Linked DNA regions of Homo sapiens. The protein of the gene in region 3 interacts with the protein of the main gene of each other region in a biochemical or structural test. Each region holds a gene or a part of one and is shown on either strand. Other genes may lie near its edges. The genes, in order: RIPK1, SKAP2, KHDRBS1, PACSIN1, FRK, ITSN1 and PSTPIP1.

Region 1 (3,500 bases), on a different chromosome or scaffold from region 3:
CCATTCTCCAGCTATGAAGTACAGGAAACAAAATTTCTGCAGACACAGAACCCCTATCAGTGAGGACAGAATTCTGAATGCTCTGAGGCAGCCAACTTTCTGGGGTTATCCACTAAGTGAGGCGTCCACTTCAGCTGCCGTAGCCCATCCAGGGTTAGTTCTGGCTGACGTAAATCAAGCTGCTCAGAAGGTCGATCCTGGAACACTGGTGGAGCGCCTGGGCCAGCTTCCCCACCGTGGCTCCCTTTATGCCTTCCCTCATCACCCACTTTTGGAGCATCTGGTAAACCTTTTCTTTCAGTCCATCTCGCTCATAGTCATGGTCAATTTCATCAATCTGAGACTGTGTGAAGCCCAGTTTACGGGCACAGTTTTTCCAGTGCTTTCCCAGATTTTCCCTGATTGGGTCCAGGTGTTTATCCGTCAGACTAGTGGTATTATCTGCCAAATGGGAAAAAGAAGAAGGTATCAAGCTAAAACCCATTCAAACATTCCAGCTTCCTGAATTGCTAAAAAACCCAAGTGAAATGAAGAGTACCAGAAGACAGTGAAAAAGATAACTTCTTAGTTATATAGCTGTTGATGCACTGGCAGACATTTCACATGCCTGCTAGCCCACATGGAGTCTTTATGTGAATTAGAATAGGGCATTCCCGGCCTGGCGTGGTGGCTCATGCCTATAATCCCAACACTTTGGGAGGCCAAGGCAGGAGGATCACTTGAACCCGGGAGTTCTAGACCAGTCCTGGGCAACACAGCAAGAACCTGTCTCTACCAAAAAAAAAATTTTTTTTAATTAGCTGGGTATGGTGGCACATGCCTGTAGTCCCAGTTACTGAGGAGGCTGAGACAGGAGGATCACTTGAACTCAGGAGTTCGAGGCTGCAGTGAGCCATGACTGTGCCCCTGTACTTCAGCCTGGGCCACAGAGCAGGATGTTGTCTCAAAAACAAAACAAAAAAGAATAAGGCATTCCTTCCTCCTAGTAGACACATCCCTGAGCCACAGCTGATGGCTCTGTGAACAAAACCCCTGTGTGGCTACGAGGTTGGGTGTTCTAGTCAATCTTAGCCAGTGATCCTGTTGGTATTAGACCTTCCTGGGTGTAAAGGGAAAACCACCATTTTTGTTCCTTTTAGACATTCTCCGCTTACATCTGGCCAGAGTTAAAGCCGCTCAACTCCTGACCACCACCCCGGCCCAACAGTTCACTTTCCTCTTACTTAATCAAGGAATTGTCCAGCAGGCGTGAACCCATTCAGTTACAAAGCCTTCCTTGTCTTTCAAGCGACGAGGTAACTATACTCTTCAAGGTCTGTTTTTGGACCCTAACCCCTCCTTTACTCCACCCCACTGCCGACCGACATTGCCTCTTCTCCAATAGCCATAACCTCTCTCCTTCTACTGGTTCCTTCCCTTCGCCCTTCATAAAAATAATAAAAGGAAACAAATGAAAATGTACAACAACCACAACAAAAAAAATTCCTTAATCCCCACACTACCTCATTAAACAGAATATAAGGAAGAAAACATTTCATTCTTCCTTCCCACCTCTCTTCTTTCCTCAGCCCTCTGTGATGTGGCTCTCTCTCTATCCATATCTTATAGATTGTCAGCAGTCCAAGAACTTCCCAAGATATTTTCCAAATTTTGTCAATATTTCTGTAGGGGGTAGATCCTGGGTTTCATTAGATTCTCACAGGTGCCCCTGACCATTCGCAAGTTCTGTTCTAGGTATTTTAAAAGCTGTCCTTCAAATGGGTTAGACCAGGGGTTGGCCAACTATGGCCTGTGGGCCAAATCTGACTCCTGCCAGCATTTGTAAATCCACTTTTATTGGAACACAGCCGTGCTCATTCATGTACATATTGTCTGTGGTTGCTTTTGCACTACAATAAGAGAGGTGAGTAGTTCCAAGAGACCTCAAAGCCAGCAGGGCCTAACATTTACTATTGGTTCCTTTACAGAAAAAAAAAAAAAAAGCGCCAATCCCATGGTTAATTAGAAAGCTGAGTTCTTAATCAAGTCGTTTTGGCCTCATGACTTTTTCCAGACTGTACTTTGGGATTAGCATTATGGGCTGCACCATAGAACCCTATAAGAGATAGCCCTCTTGATTTTATTACAGAAGTGCTGTGGAGGGCACAGTCTTCTATCTTTTACAGGATCTCCTTCGATGAGGGCCTGACACAGCTATTTCTTCTGGGTCTGAGAAGTAATACTGATGATGATGATGATGAAAGTTTAACACTTTTTATAGAACTTACTATGTGCCAGGCAGTGTTCTAAGCTTTTTATACATATCAACTCATTTAATTTTCACAACAAATCCATAAATTAAATACTGTGATTATCTCCATATTAAAAATAAATAAATGACAAAGGAATTATATGGAAATTACAAAGATATTTTGCAGAAGTAACATAAGAAAACTTTCAAGAAGAATTATCAGAGAAATTTTAAGATTCCACTATGTCCTTCTCACAAGTAAGAAAGTTCAAGGTTGCTAGGCGTTGAGTCCTTCCAGGGTATCTTACCAAAGATAGCTTGGTACTTAGCAGCTGGCTCTTCTTTGAAGTTCGTATTTGTGCTGTCTAGTAGTGATGAACTCGTCCCACCAATCTCCATATAATTGTAGGCTCCAATCTGAATGCCAGTACTATTGTATATGGTATATTTTATAGATTCATCTGCATAGAGAGAAACACACAGGTAAGTAATTCTAGATCAAAAGCAAGAGAAAAAAATACAGCATGGCAAAAAAGCAGGGCTTTATGCCAAACATTAAGTTAATTATCCTATGCCACCCTTTAAACTTTTCTTCTTTCAAATCTGGCTAAACCACCTCATACCCATTAGGATGCCTATGATTAAAAAAAAAAAAAGAAATAACACATATTGACAAAGATGTGGAAAAAATGAAGCCCTTGTGCACTGCTGGTGGGAATGTGAAATGGTGCAGCTGCTCCTATAAAGAGTATAGTGGGCCAGGTGCGGTGGCTCACACCTGTAATCCCAGCACTTTGGGAGGCTGATGCAGGTGATCACCTGAGGTCAGGAGTTCAAGACCAGCCTGGCCAACATGGTGAAACCCCTTCTCTACTAAAAATACAAAAATTAGCCAGGCGTGGTGGTGGGTGCCTGTAATCCCAGCTACTCAGGAGGCTGAGGCAGGAGAATCACTTGAACCCAGGAGGCGGAGCTTGCAGAGTGAGCCAAGATCGTGCCACTGCACTCCAGCCTGGTGATAGAGTGAGAGTCTGTCTCAAAAAAAAAAAAAAAAAAAAATCGTGATTCTTCAAAAAAATTAAAGATAGAATTACCATATGATCCAGCAATTCCGTTTCTGAGTATATACCCAAAAGAACTAAAACAGGGTGTTGAAGAAATATTTCTACCCACGTGTTCACTGCAGCATTATTCACAATAGCTAAAAGGTGGAAGTAAGCCAGGCACCCATGAGCAGATGAGTGGATAACCCAACTGTGGTCTAGCTACA
Region 2 (3,500 bases), on a different chromosome or scaffold from region 3:
GTTGATCCCATAAGTATGGCAGCCCCATAGCTACTTTACTTTATTCCCTTTAGCTGTGTTGGTTTGTTGTTGTTTGGTTTTTTGTCTCTTGGAAAAGAAGATACAAATTAGTCACACAATGTTAGAGCTCAGAGGAATCTTAGAAATCATATTAATTAACTTTTTCTTTTACAGTAAGGAAATGGCCTTACATTTTCCCCTCTTTATTGCAGATCACAGCTTTCTGGGATTTGAATGGCAGAAACGGTGGTGTGCTCTCAGTAAAACGGTATTCTATTATTATGGAAGTGATAAAGGTAATGTTGGTGTTCAATTATATCAACTACTATTGCAAAAGAATTTTTGGCCATCCCTTCCCCCTCTTTTGAGTACAGAGTAAACTGAAGACAAACTAATAATAACTGAGAATTATAACAATTATAATCTGACTAATTTATGATTCATTTCATTATTTGACAAATGCTCCAAATACCAGAATACCCTCAGAGCTAAAACAATTGTGTTGTATTGAATTAGAAAAGAGAGTAAAATAACTTTAATCTGTGTGGCCTTTCACCTTAGGGAATATTTATTATCCAGCCTACTGTTGTAGAATTTCTGGAAAAGTTAAGAACATAGGGTTGTGAGAGTTTCAATGGCAGAAAATAGATTATTTTTCTTAAATATTTTAAAATAAAATTAGATAAAATTAAATACGAACAGCACCTTTCTGAGCTCCCTTTACAGATTTAAGGAATAACAGCAAACGTGTACATAGAATTTACTATATACTGGGCACCGTTCTAAGCACTTTGTCTAAGTACGTTAGCTATGTTAACTTGTTTAGCTCACAACAACTCTGTAAGTACTATTATTAGCACCATTAATTTGACTTTTAGGAAAACTGAGAACAGAGAGGTTAAGTGACTTGTTCAAGGTCACAGAGTTGGAAAATGGCAGATCTAGGAATTTGTTTTTCCTTTGTTTTTAGAAACAGGGTCTTGTCTCGGTGCCTAGGCTGGAGAGCTGTGACTGTTCACAGGTGTAGTCATCACACCCTGCAGCCTCAAACTCCTGGGCTCAAGTGATCTTCCTGTCTCAGTCTCCCAGGTAGCTGGGATTACAGGTGCACACCGCTGTACCCAGCTCAAATTTGGGATTTTAACCTAGAGAATATGGTTAGAGTCCATGTTCTCAACCACTATTGTCACTACATTAATTTAGAAATAATAGGATACATTTTATAACTTCATTGTTAATTAATAAATCTCTCAGTTGTAGTTCACATAATTTTAAGATTGTTATTTGAACAAATAAAGCCACCAAATAATGAAATTTAAAGATTGTAAGCTTTCTGAGTTTTGTTTTATTCTGGGGAAAACAGGCTAGGAGTTGAATATTATAAAGTAAAGGTTGTATCAAAATAGATAATGTTCATTTCCAGAAAGGACACTTTAAGAAGAAAAAGGCAAAAGTATCACTGAATGTAAGCTTTCCTATGGAATTGTTATCAGTGTTGTTTGGAAATTTATGTTTTATTTGACATTATTTATAGTTTTTAGAGTTTTTTCCCCCATTCTAAAAACATACAGGTAAGATTGTCATATTTCAGATAAGTCTGAAATACTTACATAATGCTGGAAGTTGTTCTTACCTTTTGGCTAATGAGATTAACAAATTAATTAATTTAGTAGCTAGTTTGCATTCCATCACTAATTTACAGTATGTTCAGATGTAGTAATGGCATCAGTGAAGTGTAAACTGTAAACAGCTATAAACAAGCATCTTTCTTCTGCTAAGGGTCAGTAGTGAAGTAGGTCAGAAAATTTAGAGTCCAAGTTCAGTTACGATTATCACAGATCATAGAAATATAGTTTTGTATGATATTGTGAATTTAGATCGAGATACTACCTTCCACAAAATATCCTCTTTTTCACCAGACCAGGGGAGGGAGGTTTCAGATCCTTGTGACTTTGATTCAATTAGGCTTCTCATTTCTAATTTCTTTAAGAATCAATGAATACTAATGTCAGTGTTTCCTCCATTTCTAGTCCTGACTGGCATATAACAATGGTTAGGTCAAAGATTAGCAAGAGTTTCCCCAAAACCCAAAGCGTGTTAATATTTACTTCAAACACTAATATATTCAATGAAAACATTTTAGTTAGAGTTATTTAGATATTAGTTACATTCCTTTTTTTTTTTTTCTTTTTAGAGATGCGGGGGCCTCACTCTGTCACCCAAGCTGGAGTGCAGTGGTGCCATCATAGCTTACTGCAATCTTGAATTCCTGAGTTCATTTTTATTCTTATTTGATGAGACCTAATGGTAGTAACATTGTTTGTAATTTGCATTTTAACTACTTTGTGATCCATTTAGCCCTTTCTGTCATTTCTGTTACTGGAAGGGGGTCTTGATCCAGACCCCAGGAGAGGGTTCTTGGATCTCATGCAAGAAAGAATTTGAGGCCAATCCGTAGAGGGAAGTGAAAGCAAGTTTATTAAGAAAGTAAAGAAACAAAAGAATCACTACTCCATAGGCAAAGCAGAGCATAGGCTGCTCAGCTGCTTACACTTATTGTTACTTCTTGATTATATGCTAAACAGGCAGTGGATTATTCATGAGTTTTCCTGAACTGGGGTTGGCAATTCTCAGAACTGAGGGTTTCTCCCCCTTTTTAAGCCATATAGGGTAACTTCCTGATGTTGCCATGGCATTTGTAAACTATCATGGCACTGGTAGGAGTGTCTTTTAGCATGCTAATGCGTTATAATTAGCATATAATGAGCAGTGAGGAAAACCAAAGGTCATTTTCATCACCATCTTGATTTTGGTGGGTTTTGGCCAGTTGCTTTCCTGCATCCTTTTATCAGCAAGGTCTTTGTGATCTGTACCTTGTGCCAACCTCCTATCTCATCATGTGACTAAGAATGCCTAACCTCCTGGGAATGCAGCCCCCATAGGTCAAAGCCTTATTTTACTCAGCCCCTATTCAAGACGGAGTTGCTCTGGTTTAAAAGCCTCTGACACTTCCACTTTAAAAAAATTACCATTTTAGCATTCCTTTTTCATGTTGATGTCTGAAGATGTGGCTTGTGTTTCCTTAAATTTTTCCCTTTTACTTTGCAGCCTCCTGTTTCCAGTGAAATTTTAGATTTGTTTCTTGTGGTTCTTTTTTCTATTGGCGGTTTCATTCGAAATTTTTAGCCAGTTCCTCTCTTTTAAGGGACTCCAAAAAAAGATCTGTCTTTAGACAGTTTTTAATTACTTGTTTGGCATGATCCCGATTTCCTTCCTTTATATCTTTTTCTTACCAGGAAAATATGTCAAATAATTTTTTTCTTTTGTGAAATTAGATATGATTTTTTATAGCCTTGTTTACTGTATGTGTGAACCATTTACCTAATGGGAAGAACTCATATCTAGCTATATGAGAACTATAATCCTCCAACTAAGTAGGATTTAGATAAATGGATTATAGAGGCACAGAAGGAGTTGACACCACTTACTAGGTTAAACTG
Region 3 (3,255 bases):
CAGCATTTCTGGGATTGAAAGAGAAACCCTCAAGGGCACCCAGAGTTGGCTGAACTGTCATGCCTAAAGGCAGATGCTGTCCCCTTCTGAGCTCACAGAAATTATTTGGTGTCACACTTTAGAGCCACCTAGGGGTTCTACAGAAGGTGCAAACCAGGCTGGCTTGCACTTTTAAATACTGAGACCTATCTATGGAAACCAATCCAAGTTTCAGCTCAGTTGAGTTGAAAACTCTCCATAAATTAGAATTTTTGATAGGATTGGATACAACAGCTTCCAACAACTTCCAGGGGGTGAAAAAGCTTTGGTTATTTTTAAACTAAAACTTAACAACTCCATCAACTTTTTTTTGGTAAACTTAAAATAAAATCCCCCCCACCACTTTTAAGAATGTTTCCAACTTTTAACAAGCCCATTAACTTTAGAGTTAATTTAAGTTTATTTGAAAGAGAAAACTATTTTATGGTCCACCCAAAAAAATGACAATTCATCACATTTACTTTGATTAAAAAAGGACTAAACTTTATTGACAAACTGCTGCAGACATTTTGACATAAGTTTAAGCTACCTATTTAGGCAGACTTACACATGTAGCATTTAATCTTCCGAGAACAAAATGGGAGGACGGTACAAATCCAATTAGGACTTTAACTTATGTACAAAGTGGATTTTGATTCCTTTTTCATTCAGCTGCAGTGTCCCTTTTTATATCATGCTAGTGTTGAGACATACTTGACTAACTTGGGAACAGTTCGATATATTGACAACCGTCAACTTAAGAAAATCAACAGCTTTTGGCCCCAGCGTCCAAGTGAACTTTTCATGGAGTGCAGAATCTCAAATGGACAAAATACTTTGTCTTTTTAAATACTGAAAATTTAATTATTAGTACTATGACTGAAAGATTCTTCATGGCTAAAAAGCTCTGCATCAAACTCAATTCAGGAGGCCTTCCCTCCCCACCACCATCAACCTCTTCAAAACCTACTCCCTCCCTCTAAGTATCTCTCAACACAGTATGTCTGGGGCTAGATTTCAAAACCCACGTAATGAAAAAGTCAGTTTTACAAGCCTAATTTTGTTGTTTTTTTTTTTATATCAATTAACGTTAAAAATTGCATCAACTATTTAATTCATGAGGATCTTTCATATTAAAATTTAACCTTAAGATTCAACCGCCATGTGCTTTTATAAAGGAAACATTTTTTAGAGACGTCTGAGCTCACTTTTACATGGTGGTGCCTACTGCCGTTAATGTTTGTGATTTTAAATCTTAAACAGCCCTGAATTTTGAAATGTAGCCTAGTTTGGGATTCTGCAACTACAACTTTACGGGATGCCTCAAATCAAAACTAAGAGAAACTTAACAAGCCTTTACTTCAGAACCTTTAAGCAAGCAATGTCATTTTTGAAACTAACAGGTTTGTGTGTTTTTTTTTTTTACTCAACTTCTTTTTTTTATTATAAAAGGTACACTTCTGTTTATATTTAAACAACAAAGAAAAAAGCATCTACACACTTAAAAAATTAATTCAATATTCCTAAATCTATTTTAACTCATTTTAAAATACTACATACAGAAGCCAGAATGCAGAGTTAAGAATGGAATAAGGTGGGGAGAAGAAGGGGACCACGAAGAAAAACACTTAGACAATTACTTGTCTGTTGTGGGTAAAGCAACAGGAATCCTGGGAGATACAAGAAATCAGTAACAACTTTGCTCATAACTGATATTTTCCCCTCATGTTTGTTTTTAATAACGTCCATATGGGTGCTCTCTGTATGCTCCCTTCACTGGCCTAGCAGGAGGGGCCTTCAGCGACGGCCTGGTCCCATTCCAGTCGTCCTGGCCTGTGGGGAAAACAAAGACAGTTTATAAACCATGTGGCGACAGCACTTAGGGATAAGCAGGGATAGGTCACATAGTAAAGATCACCAAAAACACTGAGTTTCTTCTAATGTCTTGACACTTCCCCTGGTGTTCCTTGCTCTCTACTTGGCTTGGCCCTCTTGGGCAGCCTGGGCAATTTTTCAGTTTTGAGTGGAAGGACAGAAGGGAACAAATCTAAAAAGGCTGCCATTGACTCTGGAGTAATCTCCCACAACGAGGTTCTTCATAGACAAATGTGATCTGTACGCCAGTCCCCAAACCTGGAGATACCCAACACCTTGCTTGAGATAGTGAGGAACTCATTAATCTTAGTGAGTCTGCAATGGCCTTTCCTGTTCCCAAAACAATTTGGCAGGCACCCTCAGGTAAGGTGGGAAGACTTCTGGAAGTCTTTCAGATTGGAAGCAGGCAGCCAGCCCCACTTCCATGCAACAGCAAGTCACGTTTCCTTACGGAGAAGTGTCCTCTAGCTCCCTGGGAAAACCAAGCAAGGGCCACTTTCCATGGGGCCCTCCACCAGCAGAGCTGATACTGCTCTCTCTGGTAGAGGGATGTGCAATCAAATGTTGCACTGACAGCACTGTTTAAGATAATTCCAAGGCTGCATGCGGTGGCTCACGCCCGTAATCCCAGCACTTTGGGAGGCCAAGGCAGGCAGATCACAAGGTCAGGAGTTCGAGACCAGCCTGACCAACAGGGTGAAACCCCATCTCTACTAAAAATACAAAAATTAGCCAGGCGTGGTGGCGCATGCCTGTAATCCCAGCTACTCAGGAGGCTGAGGCAGGAGAAGTGCTTGAACCTGGGAGGCAGAGGTTGCAGTGAGCTGAGATTGTGCCACTCCACTCCAGCCTGGACAACAGAGCCAGACTCCATCTCAAAAAAAAAAAAAAAAAAAAAAAAGGATAATTCCTTATCTCCTTTCTTAAGTCAACAGGTGAGAGAAGCCAGAAGCCAGACAATGTGGTTCACATCCTCAAATGGTTCTCCTTTGTGACAGGGAAAAGCCTGAGGAATATGATCACATAATTCTAGAGGTGACCTCTTATGAAAATAAATTGCGTTAAATTTATTCTTCCCACACCTTACACACGCTAGTTCATCCCTGAAGTATTTTTCCAGCTGCCTGTATTCACAAGTATCTGCCTCCATCTCTATAGGCCTCAAACTCCTATACAGATCTAAAGTCACACAGAACCCTAATTATACCCCTAGTATAACACACATGTCCATCACTTTCCAAGTGGCTTCTGGGTATCAACAAGACAGTTTCTTTTTCTTTTTTTCCTGACGTATACAGATCATCCTGGACAGTTTATTTCTCTAATTCTGTTAATCAAAGCAGAGATCAGAACGGATTAACT
Region 4 (3,500 bases), on a different chromosome or scaffold from region 3:
ACCCAGGCCACGCCCCATTTAGTTCCCTGCAAATCCTCGCAACCCGTCTTCAGATCCTGCCTCTACCCCACCACACACCCAATGCAGGCCCAAGCCTCTCTTTCAGGCACCACCCCTGCCCCACCACACACCCAATCCAGACCCAAGCTTCTCTCTCAGGCACCGCCCCTGCACCACCACACACCCAATCCAGACCCAAGCTTCTCTCTCAGGCACCGCCCCTGCACCACCACACACCCAATCCAGGCCCAAGCCTCTCTCAGGCACTGCCCCGCCCAGCCGTCCTACCGGCCTTAAAGCTGAGCTCGTCCTGCTCCTGGCCGTCATAGTCGTAGAGTGCCCGCACGCGCACTCCCTTGGAGTCGTCCTCAAAGGGGTTGGCGCCCCCGTTGGTCTCACTGCCCCCAAAGGGGTTCCCACTCTCGTCGTCTGACCACTCGGTGGCGTAGGGCTGGCCTCTGTCGTAGCTGCTAACACTGAGACGCGGAGGAAGGAGCCAGCTTCAATGTCTCCCCGTACCGCATCCCGAGGGCTAACCGCTCCTCCTAATCAGAGCCCTGATCCCGAATTCTACCAAGGCTAGAGCAAGGATTGGCCACATAGGAGGGGTGACCCTCATGAGCTCTTTAAACCGATGTTTAAATGCAGGACCATTTGCGTTATTATTCAGCCCTCGAGGGAGAGGGCATTGAAGGGGACCCCAGGGCACATCTGAGCCTTCATCCGGGAGGAGGAGTACCACCTAATGTTTAAGAGCAAGGATCCTGGAGTCAGACCTCCTGGGCAACATATCTGGCTCTGAGGTTTACTAACTAGCAATGTGATCTTGGGCAAGTCACTTAACCTGTCTGGGTTTCAGTTTCTCCATCTGTAAAATGGTAATATTTACGCACTTGAGCATGAATGAGTTAACATATGGAAAGTGCATAGAACCGTGCCACACACAGTAGGTGCTCTAGAAGGATATGCTACCACTATCTTTTAGAGAGGAGGCTTGGTTCCTGTGATCTGGACCGGGGTCCCCAACCCTGGGGCTGCAGACAGTCCGTGGCCTGTTAGGAACCAGGCAGCACAGCAGGAGGTGAGTGACAGGCGAGGGAGCATTATCGCCTGAGCTGCACCTCCTGTTAGATCAGCCGCGGCGTTAGATTCTCATAGGAGCGCAACCCCCCTATTGTGAACTGCGCATGCGAGGGATCCAGGTTGCACGTTCCTTAGGAGAATCTAACGCCTGATGATCTGAGGTGGAACAGTTTCATCCGAAAACCACCCCGCTCCCATCCGTGGAAAAATTGTCTTCCACAAAACTGGTCCCTGGTCCCAAAAAGATTGGGGACGGCTGCTTTAGAGTGATGAACTACCACTATCTTTTAGAGAGGAGACATAGTTGCTATGATCTAGACCATTTCTTGTCTTCTGAAGCAAAACTCAGCTGCCCCAGAGTGTGGGTCCCTCTTGGCCCCAGGAAGCTCCACAGGAGGCACTCACCTGCCGCGGTCCCCAGCCTGGGATGTGGACTCTACCGCCCCAGTGGCATTGGTCAGCGCCACTCCCTCTGCCTTCTTAGGCTGTTTCTCCTTCTTGGTGGTGGTGTGAGGAAGGTCTGGGTTCCACTCCTGGTGGGGCCAGTGGAGCAGTCAGGCTGGGGGACTATGCCCTGAGGCACCTTTCAGCCTCTTCAGGCTCCCCTTCCCATCCCCACATATCCTCACCTCAAACTGGGGCCAGTTCATGGGCATGCCGGGGCCACTGGTGCTGCGGAACCATCTGAGGTCTTCCTGGGCATCAGCCCCCCGGATGGCCTGCTCCAGCTCACGGTACACATGGATGTAGCTGTGCTCAGGGAGATGGGGGAGGTGGAGGGCACAGATTCAACATGGCCCCTCCTCAACCTTGGTGAGAGGCCAGAGTCCACTCAGGGAAGCAGGGTGCTGGGCATGCTGCCCAGCCAGGAATCATGTGGGCTTTGCAAGAATAAGCTCCGGGCATGCTCGGTGGACTCCTTTTCCCTCCCACCTTAGCCATTCACCCATCATCCAGCATGTGTTTCTAGAGTACCCAGTGTGCGTCAGCTTGCACTCAACAGCCCCTGTGTTTGAAGCCTCATCCTTCTTGACCCCTGCAGCTCTGCCTCCCCTTCCCGTCACTGTGATGGAGGGCTGGGATGCCCTGCATGCCAGTCACACCATCTGCTGGCTGTGCCTGTGCCCTCGGTGCCTGCCATGCCCAGGTACCTGCTGTTCTCAGCCAGGTTGAGGTGCCGTTTGATGTCCAGCAGCACCTCCTTGAGGAAGACCAGCCGCTTTTCCTCAAATTGCTGGCATTGCTCAAACACCTGCTCCATGTTCTCCATGTACTGGGGTGTGGTCTTGCCCACATCTTCCAGCACTTTCTCATACTTCTCCTGTGTCTGTGGGCACCAGAGTGGAGAGAGGGTGACACCTAGCCAGGCCTGCAGCTCCCAGCCACCACCCTCTGCAAGGGGCCCCCAGACCCCCTACTGCCATCCCTGCCCGCCAGCACCTTCTGCACATCCTGCTTGCACTTGTCCACTTTGTCCTGCAGCTTCTTTTGCTGCTCAGGTGTGACCGATTGCTCCGTCTTGCTGTTCATCTCCCGTGTCATGGCCAGCTTTTCCTCTTTGCAAGCCAAATGGTAGGCCTTCTTGGCTGCCTCCAGCTGTGGGGAGGGGGGAATAGGGAGTAGGGTTTTCATTTGTGACCAGCAGCAAACATGGTCACCCATTAACTCCTCCCCTGCCCACTCCCTGGGACCTGTGAGCCCACACTCTTAAGAGCCAGAAGGGATGCAGGCCCTGGCTCCAGGTGTTCGGGAGCAGCGCTCCTCCATTTGTGGCTGCGTCTCTGCTTGGCACTGCCTGCTCCCCTGCAGATACCCTCCTGTCAGGCAGTGCAGTGCCCGCCCCATCTGGGGACCCAGGGGCCAATGTGCTCTTCTGCCCCTGCTGGTATCTTTCCTGGGGACAGTGCCCCTTTTTGCCCATGGGTCTCCTTACCCAATGGGCACTGCCTACCCATCTGTGAATATTTTTTCCTGGAAGGCAGTGCTGCTCCCCTGTGGGCACAATCCCAGAGGGCAGTGCCCAGCCCACCCATCCATAGATGCCCTCCCTGGGATCAGCACCCTCTGATCAGACGGGCCCACCCCACCCCGCCCGTGGCAGCACCCACTGAGCACCTCCTTCATCTTCTTGGCCCAAGGCTTCTGGGCCTTGCGGAAGCCATCTTCAGCCTCCTTCGTCTCCTTGAAGCCACCCATGATCTGCTTGTGATAGGCGTCCTTCTGCCAGTTCTTCACCTTCTCCAGGTCCTCATTCAGCAGATTGTTCTTCACCTCCTGGTGCAGCTCGCTCACCTTGTCTGCCTCTGTCATTATGGCACCCCAGGCCCGCTCCAGGCTGCCATACTGTGGGCCTGAGGGAATGGCAATAGGTCACAAGAACCTCATTGCCCCTGCCCAGAGGCCCCCCCTCACATCTC
Region 5 (3,500 bases), on a different chromosome or scaffold from region 3:
TGCCTGATTTGTAAGGGTTCAAACCTGGAAACAATCCAAATGTTCATCAACACATAAATAGAACTATCCAAATGTTTATCAACTAAAAAACAATTGAATTAGCTAAAAAATTGTCATCTAGTGGAATGCAAATTTGTAAATAAACAAAAACTGCAGCTACACATAACAAAGTGAATGAATCTCGCAAACTCAAATATATAGTCTCATTATTAAAAAGCAAGGCTAAGCTGGGCGTGGTGGCTCACGCCTTTAGTCACAGCATCTGGGGAGGTTGAGATGGAAGAATTGCTTGAGGCTAGGTCTGCAAGCCAGTCTACGCAATGGTGGCAGACCCTGTCTCAACAAAAAATAATAATAATAATTGTTTTTAAATTAGCCAGGATTGGTGGCACACACCTGTAGTCACAGCTACTTGGGAAGCTGAGGCAGGAGGATCACTTCAGCCCAGAAGGTCAAGGCTGCAGAGAGTTATGATCGATTGTGCCACTATACTCAAGTCCAGCCTGGGCAACAGAACAAGACTGTCTCTAAAATAAGTAAATAAATAAATATCAAAAACAAGCAAAACTATTGATATGAGGGGTCAGTGACTGGGACGTTAACCTTATTCTGTTTCTTAACTTGGTGCTGGTTACCTGGATGAATTCACTTTGTACTCACCAAACTAAATTTTTATGAATTGTGTACTTTTATTATGTGTATCACACTTCAATTTAAAAGAATACTTTTAAAATGTCAGTGTTTTGCTTCTCTTTATGAACAAATGGGGAATCGAGTCTCCAAACTGCTATATTATGGTTCATGCTGTATTATTTCAGTATGGAAGGTTATTAAAGTAAATGTTACCTAATTTTCACCCTGGGTATAAAAATTCTCAGTAACATACACGTAGAATATTAACTTTAAGCAAATAAGTTTTCTAGTAAGCACTGTGAGAAACCTGGCTACAAAATGCCCTCCTAAATAACTGAGTTGACTTGCACTATAGGAGTATTTGCTATAAGCCAGAAAAATGCAAGGAAATATCAAACAAAAATCAAGACTTTAGGTGTACAACACTGAATTTGAAGGTAACCTTTCTAACACAGCATCAACCACAATAATGCAAACAATACACAGAAAAGCACAACTAATAATTAAAGCCTACACCTTTCATGTTCTTCCCAGTGGTCTTTAATTTGTAGTCTGTGAGAATAACACTCCCCTGTCCCTAGATGAAAGCTCCAGCAAAGTTTTTCTGCCCACTTTTAGGTATTAGACAGTCTTACTTCCACTTAAAATCACAAACAGTGTCTCAATTCAAGCCTAGATGCCCAGTCCCAGATGATAACCAAAACACTCTACTGCTACGTGATCAGATGTCGAATCTTCTCTCCTTCCCCAGCTCGGTCTGGCCCGCTTCAGGCAAAAGGCAGCAGTGGAAACATGGTATGGGTGCCTTCCTCTCTGTTTCTCTACTATAGCTGCTCCTCCACTTTTCCTTCCCAGCTGGGCTCTGAGCATCCAGACTAAGAGCAGAGAGAAGAGGGAGTAAAGAAGGAGAAGGCCACACTCAGTCAACTTCCCACTCCGAGCCTGCTGGCAGAAACTGAAGCTGACTCCTCTCTGGGACACTCATGCAGGCCCTTTGGGGCTTCCCTGTCTCTAAAGGAACCCTCACTGCAGCTGCTAAGATGCAGACATTTCTAGGATGCCTGCACCCAATTGCCTCTCAGCTTCTGTTTCCTGGGCAGTTCTCCCACCACATTCTCCCTTATAGGTCTCCTCTTATCCTCCAGCAGAAGCTTTCCTGGGCAAAACCCAAAACTCCTCCAGACTGTCCATCTACAGTGCCATGGCACTTTTGCTCATTAGGAGACCCACTTATGGTCCTGAGATAATATTTACACATCCCTTGCCCTGACAATTACTAGGAGGAGAGAGAAGCTGGTGCCCTAAGTTACCTCTATCCTACTTCCACAGGATGCTTTCACCTTCTCAACCTGAGTCAGGCACCTGTGTTCTATCCTCCCAACTGCAGAGGGTGGAGAGTTAGCTCTCAGAGTGGCCTTCCTGAAGCACCCTCTCACTAGGTTTGGGGTCCCATTCATTAGCCCAGGAATAAAGGGGGTTCCATAGTGTGCCAACAGCTTTCTTCAAAAGCAAAATGCCATCAGCAAATTCTTCCTCCATTCCACTCCTTGTATCCTTTCTAAATTATTAACAAGCTGAGAGATCCAAGAACAGCCATACCTATCTTTGACCAATTCCTTTGTCAACTGTGAGTATGGAGATCTGACTTTGAACTTCTACTTCTATTGTGTCTTAATAACCTCAATCAAAAACTCCATTTTAACATTGTTATATTCACATGTATTGACCCAAACACCATGCTAAGCATGATTTTACATTATTTTGTTGTAATCTTTTAACAGTCATATAAGGTAGTTATTAGGTCCATTTTACTACTCATAAAAGTCAGTAGATGGCACTGCCAGGATTCAACTTGGGGCCTTGTGACTCTAAGACGCTCTATAACCAGCAGATTTCACACAGCAGATCTAAATGTCTAAGAAGACACACCTCCAGTTCACGACAATAATATTATGTCATCTGTGTTCAGGAAAATGTGTTACTTTCAGCAGTGATATCATTCATTAATTTTAATGTTTTCCTTTACATTAAAATACAAAAGGCAAGAGTCCATTTAGTTCCTTCAAGAGCAATATCATTTTCTTAAACTTTTTTGTGTATCTGGAACACATCCTTGCACTCTGATTTGTCAAGCTACCATTCCTACTGGCTATGACTCTTAGGCCAGTGTTAATTGCCCTATATAATAATCATCAAATAGAGGACTTCTATCAGGATATAGAGCTTAGCTCATAATATATTCCTGAAGCTGGAAACCATCATTCTCAGCAAAATAACACAAGAACAGAAAACCAAACACCGCATGTTCTCACTCATAAATGGGAGTTGAACAATGAGAACACATGGACACAGGGAGGGGAGCATCACACACTGGGGCCTGTTGGGGGATGTGGGATTAAGGGTGGGATAGCATTAGGAGAAATACCGAATGTAGATGATGGTTGATGGGTGCAGCAAACCACCATGGCACGCGTATACTTATGTAACAAATCTGCACATGCTACACATGTATCCCAGAACTTAAAGTATAATGTTTAAAAATTTTTAAAAAAAGCCAACAAAGGGCTGGGCATGGTGGCTCATGCCTGTAATCCCAGCACTTTGGGAGGCCAAGGTGGGCAGATCACTTGAGGACAGGAGTTCAAGACCAGCCTGGCCAATATGGCAAAACCCCATCTCTACTAAAAATAGAAAAAATTAGCCGGGTGTGTTGGCATGTGCCTGTAATCCCAGCTACTCAGGAGGCTGAGGCAGGAGAATTGCTTGAACCCGGGAGGCAGAGGTTGCAGTGAGCCAAGATTGTGCCACTGCAATTCAGCCTGGGCAACAGAGCGAGACACAGTCTCAGAAAAAAAAAAAAAAGCCAA
Region 6 (3,500 bases), on a different chromosome or scaffold from region 3:
AAGTTTCCCTTCTAGTTGATGCTTTTTATCATTCTTGAACAAATGAAAGATAATAAAAATTATTACTGTTTTTAATGGTTCCATCTTAGTATATTTTCAAAGTATAACCAAACTTCACTCACTAGAGCTTCTAATTCAAATTCCAAAGTCTTTTTCTTTGCTTTCAGTACAACTATGTCCTCTTGTTCTTTGTTTCTTTGATTTAGTAGTTCTTGCCTTCGATTCCGTTCCCACTCAAGTTGTCGTTGCCTTTCAAGTTCCCGTTTTGCAGCCTGTGACATTTACAGAGACAAATTACTAATTTTTCAGTTCTTACACTACACAATGTCTTTTCACAAAAATGGCATCTAGGAAGTCTTTCCTTTTAGGGATGAAATATTAAACATTACAAGAAATCACATTAGAAAACAAAAAATTACATAAAAATACAGTATTCCTTCTATGGGAATAAAGGGAATACACAGAACTGGGTATTATATTTACATAATACTATATTTACGTAAGATGACAGGATTATTTCCCCATTAGAATTCCATTCTTTATGCCTTCAAGAATGCTTGATGTGCTAACTAAAAATGCTCCTTCTTATTTACTGACACGCCAAGAAGGAAAATTTATGTAGTAAAATCAAACTAAAACACCCCTGAACAAAAACAAACAAGAGTTGATTTTACTCCACCAAAAGAGAAATTATTACTTAACTCGTTTTAAAAGTCTGCGACTCCCCACTTCCTAATCATTCATTTCCTTTTTACCACAAAAGCTTTTGCTCCCTCCAACGACTGGCTCTGACGACTGCTAGATAGAGTACATATCAGAGCATCTGACAGTCTATGGGAATTGCCTCTGACTCATGGGTCATCCAACTACACCTGATACATGGTAAATGTCTATTAAATAATTCTGAATAAATACTCTAGAATATCATTTTTTTGGTACGTTGAAGAAAAGTTTGCCTATCTTTGTTCATTCTGAAAATTAAAATTTTGTTAGTGTCTGTCTGAACAAAAAGGAGTTACGGGGCCGGGCGCAGTGGCTCACGCTTGTAATCCTAGCACTTTGGTAGGCCGAGGCAGGCGGATCACCTGAGGTCAGGAGTTCGAGACCAGCCTGGGCAACATGGCGAAACCCTGTCTCTACTAAAAATACAAAAATCAGCCAGGCATGGTGGCTCACGCCTGTAATCCCAGCTACTCCGGAGGCTGAGGCAGGTGAATCACTTGAACCCAGGAGGTGAAGGCTGCAGTGAACTGAGATCGTGCCACTGCACTCCAGCCTGGGCAACAGAGCGAGAGTCTGTCTCAAAAAAAAAAAAAGGAGTTATGGCTATAAGTTTTGTTTCTTTCTTTTTTTGAGACAGGTTCTTGCTCTGTCACCTAGGCTGGAATGCAGTGGCCTCCAACTACTGGCCTCAAGTGATCATCCCTCCTTAGCCTCCCAAAGTGCTGGGATTACAGGCTTGAGGCACAGCACTCAGGCTATTTTTTTACATCGAAAAATTCCTCATTTTTATCTTTCATTCACATGAAAGAACCATGTGTTGCTTCTGCAGTAATGTACTAAAATTGGAAAGAGAGACAAGATTTGCTTAGCCCCTTTCCAGGTATGGCGCTAAATTTACGAAGCCTTCCATAGAATATAGGGAGGATGTCCCAGACATATTTTTAAAAGAGTTTAAAAAGAAGGTTGCATGGGCCAGGCGCGGTGGCTCATGCCTGTAATCCCAGCACTTTGGGAGGCTGAGGCGGGTGGATCACCCGAGGTCAGGAGCTCGAGATCAGCCTGACCAACATGGTGAAACCTCATCTCTACTAAAAATACAAAATATTAGCTGGGCGTGGTGGCGGGCACCTGTAATCCCAGCTACTCAGGAGACTGAGGCAGGAGAATCGCTTGAACCCAGGAGGCAGAGGTTGCAGTGAGCTGAGATCATGCCACTGCATTCCAGCCTGGAAGTGACAGAGCGAGACTCTGTCTCAAACAAAAAAAAAAAAAAAAAAGAAGATTGCAGAACAATGTAATTGGTATGATACTATTACAGTGGTTTTTAAAAAATTATACAGCCCTTACACTCTCCGCCATATAAACCTTTATATTTTTATATAGGTGTATACAGAGAAAACAGTCTGGAAAAACACTTTACTGGTATCAGTGGTTTGTTACAAAATTGTATCATCAAAAACTTGTACATTAATGTTCATAACATCATTGTTTATAATAGCCACAATGACCATCAACTGCTGAATGAATTAAAAAATGTGGTATACCCATATAACGAAATATTACTCAGCCATAAACAGGAATAAAGGACTGATTCATTTTACAATGTGGATGAACCTTGAAAACATTATGCTAAATGAAAGCCAGAAACAAAAGTCCATATATTGATGATTCCATTTATAAAAAATGTCCTGAATAAGTAAATCTAGAAAGATAGAAAGTAAAATTAATGATAGGAGCTGGAGGGAGAAAGAAATGGGGAGTAGCTGCTTAATGGGTAAAGAGCTGGAGTGATGAAAATGTTCTGGAATTAGGGACGATGGTTGCACAACTTTGGGAATATACTAAAACTACTGAATTGTAAAAAGACAAAGATGGCGTGAATAGATCACTTGGATAATTCTGAAAAGGGGTGATCGCACACTAACTCCGGGTGGCTCCACTCTCGCCTGCTTACCTCTCGCCTCTCAATTTCTTTCCTCCTCTCCTCCTCTCTCTGCCGTTCTAGCTCCCGCTGCTTTTCCAGTTGCTTCTCCAGTTCCAGTTGTCTTTTGCGCTCTTGCTCCTGGCGCTCACGCTCCTTCCTCTCCTGCTCCGCCCGCTCCAGCTGGGCCAGGCGCTCCTGCTCCTTGCGCTGCTGTTCCAGGAGAGCTTGCCTTCGTTTCTCCAGTTCCAGGTTGCCACGTTCAAAGTTCTCCCGCTTCTTATCTTCAAACGTTACTTCAGACAAGGAACACAGCAACTATGAAAACTCAAGATTTTCAACGGACTCTTTTCAAAGGAAAACTCACCAATGTATTTGAAATTTGTAGTACAAACCCAAACCCAGAACTCCCTAAGCTTCTGTGTCCTTGTTAATGAGCACAACGAAAACCCCCTTTGCCTAACCTCTCTGTTTATATCTTCTCCTCCACGCCAAACACTGTTTCTAAAAGATCCTTATCTAGCAGTTCTACATCACCATCCAGACTCCTTTCCTTCCCTGTTACTCCATCCTTTCCCTTCTTCCCATGAGCTTGCCCTAGGAATTAACCCCCTCTCTTCTGGACCATGAGTCTCTGTCTCTCTCCCTCCTTCCCTTTGCCTTGTAACCGTGCTGATGAGTCCTCTATTCTAACAAGATTTCTCAAAGCAGAGTGAAAGGTGAGCATTCGGCTTTTCACACTGAAGAACAAGCTGTGCCCTGATCCCTATGGAGATCACAGTCAGTCAACAATTTTTTCTAACCCATTATTCAGTTTCCTTCTTTAACACATCAATTATAAATTTAGAATGATTAC
Region 7 (2,425 bases), on a different chromosome or scaffold from region 3:
GTGAAAGTTATGTTCCTGGGACTAAAAAGAGAAGGGGCTGAAGGCCTTCAAGAACAGCTCCCTCTGTGCCCGGGGCCAACGTGCCTGGGCTGTGGACCCCTGCTCGGCCGGGGTTGCCATGTTGAGGGGAGTGTCATGGGCAGCAGTGGCTTCCCCAGGCCCCACTTGCACCCACAAGCCACAAGCCTGTCTTCCTGGGCTCCCACCATGGCCTCTCCAACAGATCCATCACCAGCTTCCTGTTTCCAAACTGAGTCCTCCGAATATTCCTGGGTGTACCCCCAACCTCACCTTTGCCCACGCACTTGCCCTGGCCTGGCCACTGCTGCCCAGCCATGGACCTGCTCAACCCTCCGCCCCCAAGAAGCCTGCTCTCCCCATTGCAGCCCTGCTGAGCCCCTTCTTGCCCCTGCCACATCCTCCTGCACCCCTGTGTCCTCTGTCCAGGTGTGAATGTGTCTCCTTGGCAGTCTGGGAGCTCCTAGCAACTGGGGCCAGGCCTCTTCTCCAACTATAGCTGAAGCCTCGGCTGAGTTGGGGAGCTCCACATCCAGGCTCCTTCCCTTGTTCCTTTGCCTCCTCTGAACTGAGCACTCGGACACTGGAGCAGGAGAAAAAGAGAACGGGACCCCAGCACACCAAGGAGAACAGAACGCACTCCTTTATTCCCTGGGAGACGACAGGCTCCCTCTCGGGGCTGGGGGACGCTTGGTTCTGGGCCCTAGCAAGGTGGGGACAGTGCTGGGGGCACTGCTGGCTCCACTGGCAGGGCAGGTCCGAAGGGGCTCCTGGCCCTTCCTCAAAGCTTCTCCAGGTAGGAACCAGGGACGAAGCCACGCTGCCCGTTCCTCTCCACAGTCCACCAGCCATCCTCCCCTTCCAGGATCACCTCCAGGATGTCTCCCGCGGACAGGTCCAGCTCATCTGGGTTCTGGCCAAGAGATTGAAAGCGCATGACGTTGGAAGGGCCTGCAGGGAAGGGCCTGCAGGGAGGGGCCTGGCGTTCCCCCACCCAGCAGTAAATGCGGCATGTCTCCCAGGGTGGGCAGGGGCAGCCCCTTGGGGACACAGGATGGGGGTAACCCAACGGACCGGGCCTCCCATCCCCCTCAGTTTGTCATCATAGTTCTCCCCCAACCTGGGTTTCTTCCCAGCCTCACCTCCCCTCTCCCATTCTGGAGACGCAGTGACTGGAGCATGTCAGGGGTCACGGGTGCTCATCATACCCCAAGCCCAGGGCACACTCATGCCTAAGCTTACCACAAGCCTCCCCTTTGCGGTCCCCAGCCCCAGCTAGCCACTGCCATCCAAGTACCCCATCACTCTCCTGGCCTGGCTTCCCTGCCTCCCCGAGCCCTGGCCTCATCAGTGGAGTCCACACCCAGCCTGCCTGGCTATGTGGGGGTGCTTGGCCTCAGTCCAGGTGGATGTGAGGTCTGGCTATGCATTCTTCCCCTCAAGCAGGGAGCAGAAAGGACTCTCATAGCTGCCCTGTGGCTGCCTTGGTTCATCCTCACCCTATGGACATCAGAAAATCAATCCTGGCACGATAGCAAGACTCATTCTGGCCACAGTTTTCCACACCCATGGCCACGAAGGACAGGGCCCTGACCCAAAGGCACAGAGCCTGGCCCTCAAGCTATGACCTGCAGGCAGCTCCAGGCTCTGCCAGCTCCCCGCACGTGTGCACCACTCAGCGCCCAGCCTGTGTGGACGGCATAGGTACATGTGCTCCACGTGTGTGCTGTGTACAGGCCCGGGCAGACACAGGCCTGCTGCACACCAGCTTCCAGTCAGTACATGCACACTGAGGCCCCGCAAGCCCTGGGTGCTGTTCTCAGAGCTCACATCCAAGCACACTCCCAGGTACCCTTGCTAGTGTGGACACACTCGGGCACACGTGCCCTCCTGAGGAGGAGAGGATGCTCGAAGATGAGTGAAACCATGAGGAGAGATGAGGACGCAAGGCACTGGATGGGAGAGGGAGCTCTCAGGTGCAGGGGAGGTGGCACAGGTGGGTTTGGGGTATAGAGGCCTCACCTGCGCTGTATAATCGTAGAGCGCCCGGTACTCCTGGGCTGGTGAGGCCGGGTTTCCCTGTATCTCCTGCACTGCGATGGCTGTGTAGACACCCTCATTCCGCTCGGGGGTGGGGGTCAGGGTCTCTGTGGACGCTAAGAGCAGGGTGAGACATAGACCCCTCCCCTTCTGGGGACACTGGCCCCTGGAAGTCCTACTAGAATGGGGTTTCTCCATGCTGGGCCCTGCCTCTTCCTTCTGCTGTCCACACTTGCTGTTGGGGGACACACACTTCCTCTTGAGGGCCTCAGTGGCCCCATCTGTGCCATGTGGGAGACCTCTCCTCCCCCCCAGGATCAGTGTGTTTGGGGGTCCCCTCCTGACCCCCTTTACCAGCAGAAGCTGC

Evidence for each region.
Region 1: the proteins of KHDRBS1 (region 3) and RIPK1 form a complex in vitro, tested with the Homo sapiens proteins (one study listed by BioGRID).
Region 2: the proteins of KHDRBS1 (region 3) and SKAP2 interact in a test that uses a peptide from one of them, tested with the Homo sapiens proteins (one study listed by BioGRID).
Region 4: the proteins of KHDRBS1 (region 3) and PACSIN1 interact in a test that uses a peptide from one of them, tested with the Homo sapiens proteins (one study listed by BioGRID).
Region 5: the proteins of KHDRBS1 (region 3) and FRK interact in a test that uses a peptide from one of them, tested with the Homo sapiens proteins (one study listed by BioGRID).
Region 6: the proteins of KHDRBS1 (region 3) and ITSN1 interact in a test that uses a peptide from one of them, tested with the Homo sapiens proteins (one study listed by BioGRID).
Region 7: the proteins of KHDRBS1 (region 3) and PSTPIP1 interact in a test that uses a peptide from one of them, tested with the Homo sapiens proteins (one study listed by BioGRID).

Annotation. Positions count from the first base shown.
Region 1 is NC_000006.12:3,109,994-3,113,493, reverse strand, and holds part of RIPK1 (receptor-interacting serine/threonine-protein kinase 1), read right to left. Parts: intron 2,692-3,500; coding exon 2,539-2,691; intron 442-2,538; coding exon 155-441; 3' UTR 1-154. UniProt on the Homo sapiens protein: Serine-threonine kinase which is a key regulator of TNF-mediated apoptosis, necroptosis and inflammatory pathways.
Region 2 is NC_000007.14:26,735,591-26,739,090, reverse strand, and holds part of SKAP2 (src kinase-associated phosphoprotein 2), read left to right. Parts: intron 1-212; coding exon 213-296; intron 297-3,500. UniProt on the Homo sapiens protein: May be involved in B-cell and macrophage adhesion processes. In B-cells, may act by coupling the B-cell receptor (BCR) to integrin activation. May play a role in src signaling pathway.
Region 3 is NC_000001.11:32,041,123-32,044,377, reverse strand, and holds the end of KHDRBS1 (KH domain-containing, RNA-binding, signal transduction-associated protein 1), read right to left. Parts: intron 1,852-3,255; coding exon 1,754-1,851; 3' UTR 501-1,753; downstream 1-500. UniProt on the Homo sapiens protein: Recruited and tyrosine phosphorylated by several receptor systems, for example the T-cell, leptin and insulin receptors. Once phosphorylated, functions as an adapter protein in signal transduction cascades by binding to SH2 and SH3 domain-containing proteins.
Region 4 is NC_000006.12:34,528,576-34,532,075, reverse strand, and holds part of PACSIN1 (protein kinase C and casein kinase substrate in neurons protein 1), read right to left. Parts: intron 3,435-3,500; coding exon 3,199-3,434; intron 2,680-3,198; coding exon 2,524-2,679; intron 2,411-2,523; coding exon 2,235-2,410; intron 1,834-2,234; coding exon 1,713-1,833; intron 1,617-1,712; coding exon 1,489-1,616; intron 477-1,488; coding exon 289-476; intron 1-288. UniProt on the Homo sapiens protein: Plays a role in the reorganization of the microtubule cytoskeleton via its interaction with MAPT; this decreases microtubule stability and inhibits MAPT-induced microtubule polymerization.
Region 5 is NC_000006.12:115,970,392-115,973,891, forward strand, and holds part of FRK (tyrosine-protein kinase FRK), read right to left. Parts: intron 1-3,500. UniProt on the Homo sapiens protein: Non-receptor tyrosine-protein kinase that negatively regulates cell proliferation.
Region 6 is NC_000021.9:33,771,501-33,775,000, reverse strand, and holds part of ITSN1 (intersectin-1), read right to left. Parts: intron 2,941-3,500; coding exon 2,678-2,940; intron 273-2,677; coding exon 123-272; intron 34-122; coding exon 1-33. UniProt on the Homo sapiens protein: Adapter protein that provides a link between the endocytic membrane traffic and the actin assembly machinery. Acts as a guanine nucleotide exchange factor (GEF) for CDC42, and thereby stimulates actin nucleation mediated by WASL and the ARP2/3 complex.
Region 7 is NC_000015.10:77,035,551-77,037,975, reverse strand, and holds the end of PSTPIP1 (proline-serine-threonine phosphatase-interacting protein 1), read right to left. Parts: coding exon 2,413-2,425; intron 2,175-2,412; coding exon 2,041-2,174; intron 932-2,040; coding exon 800-931; 3' UTR 501-799; downstream 1-500. UniProt on the Homo sapiens protein: Involved in regulation of the actin cytoskeleton. May regulate WAS actin-bundling activity. Bridges the interaction between ABL1 and PTPN18 leading to ABL1 dephosphorylation.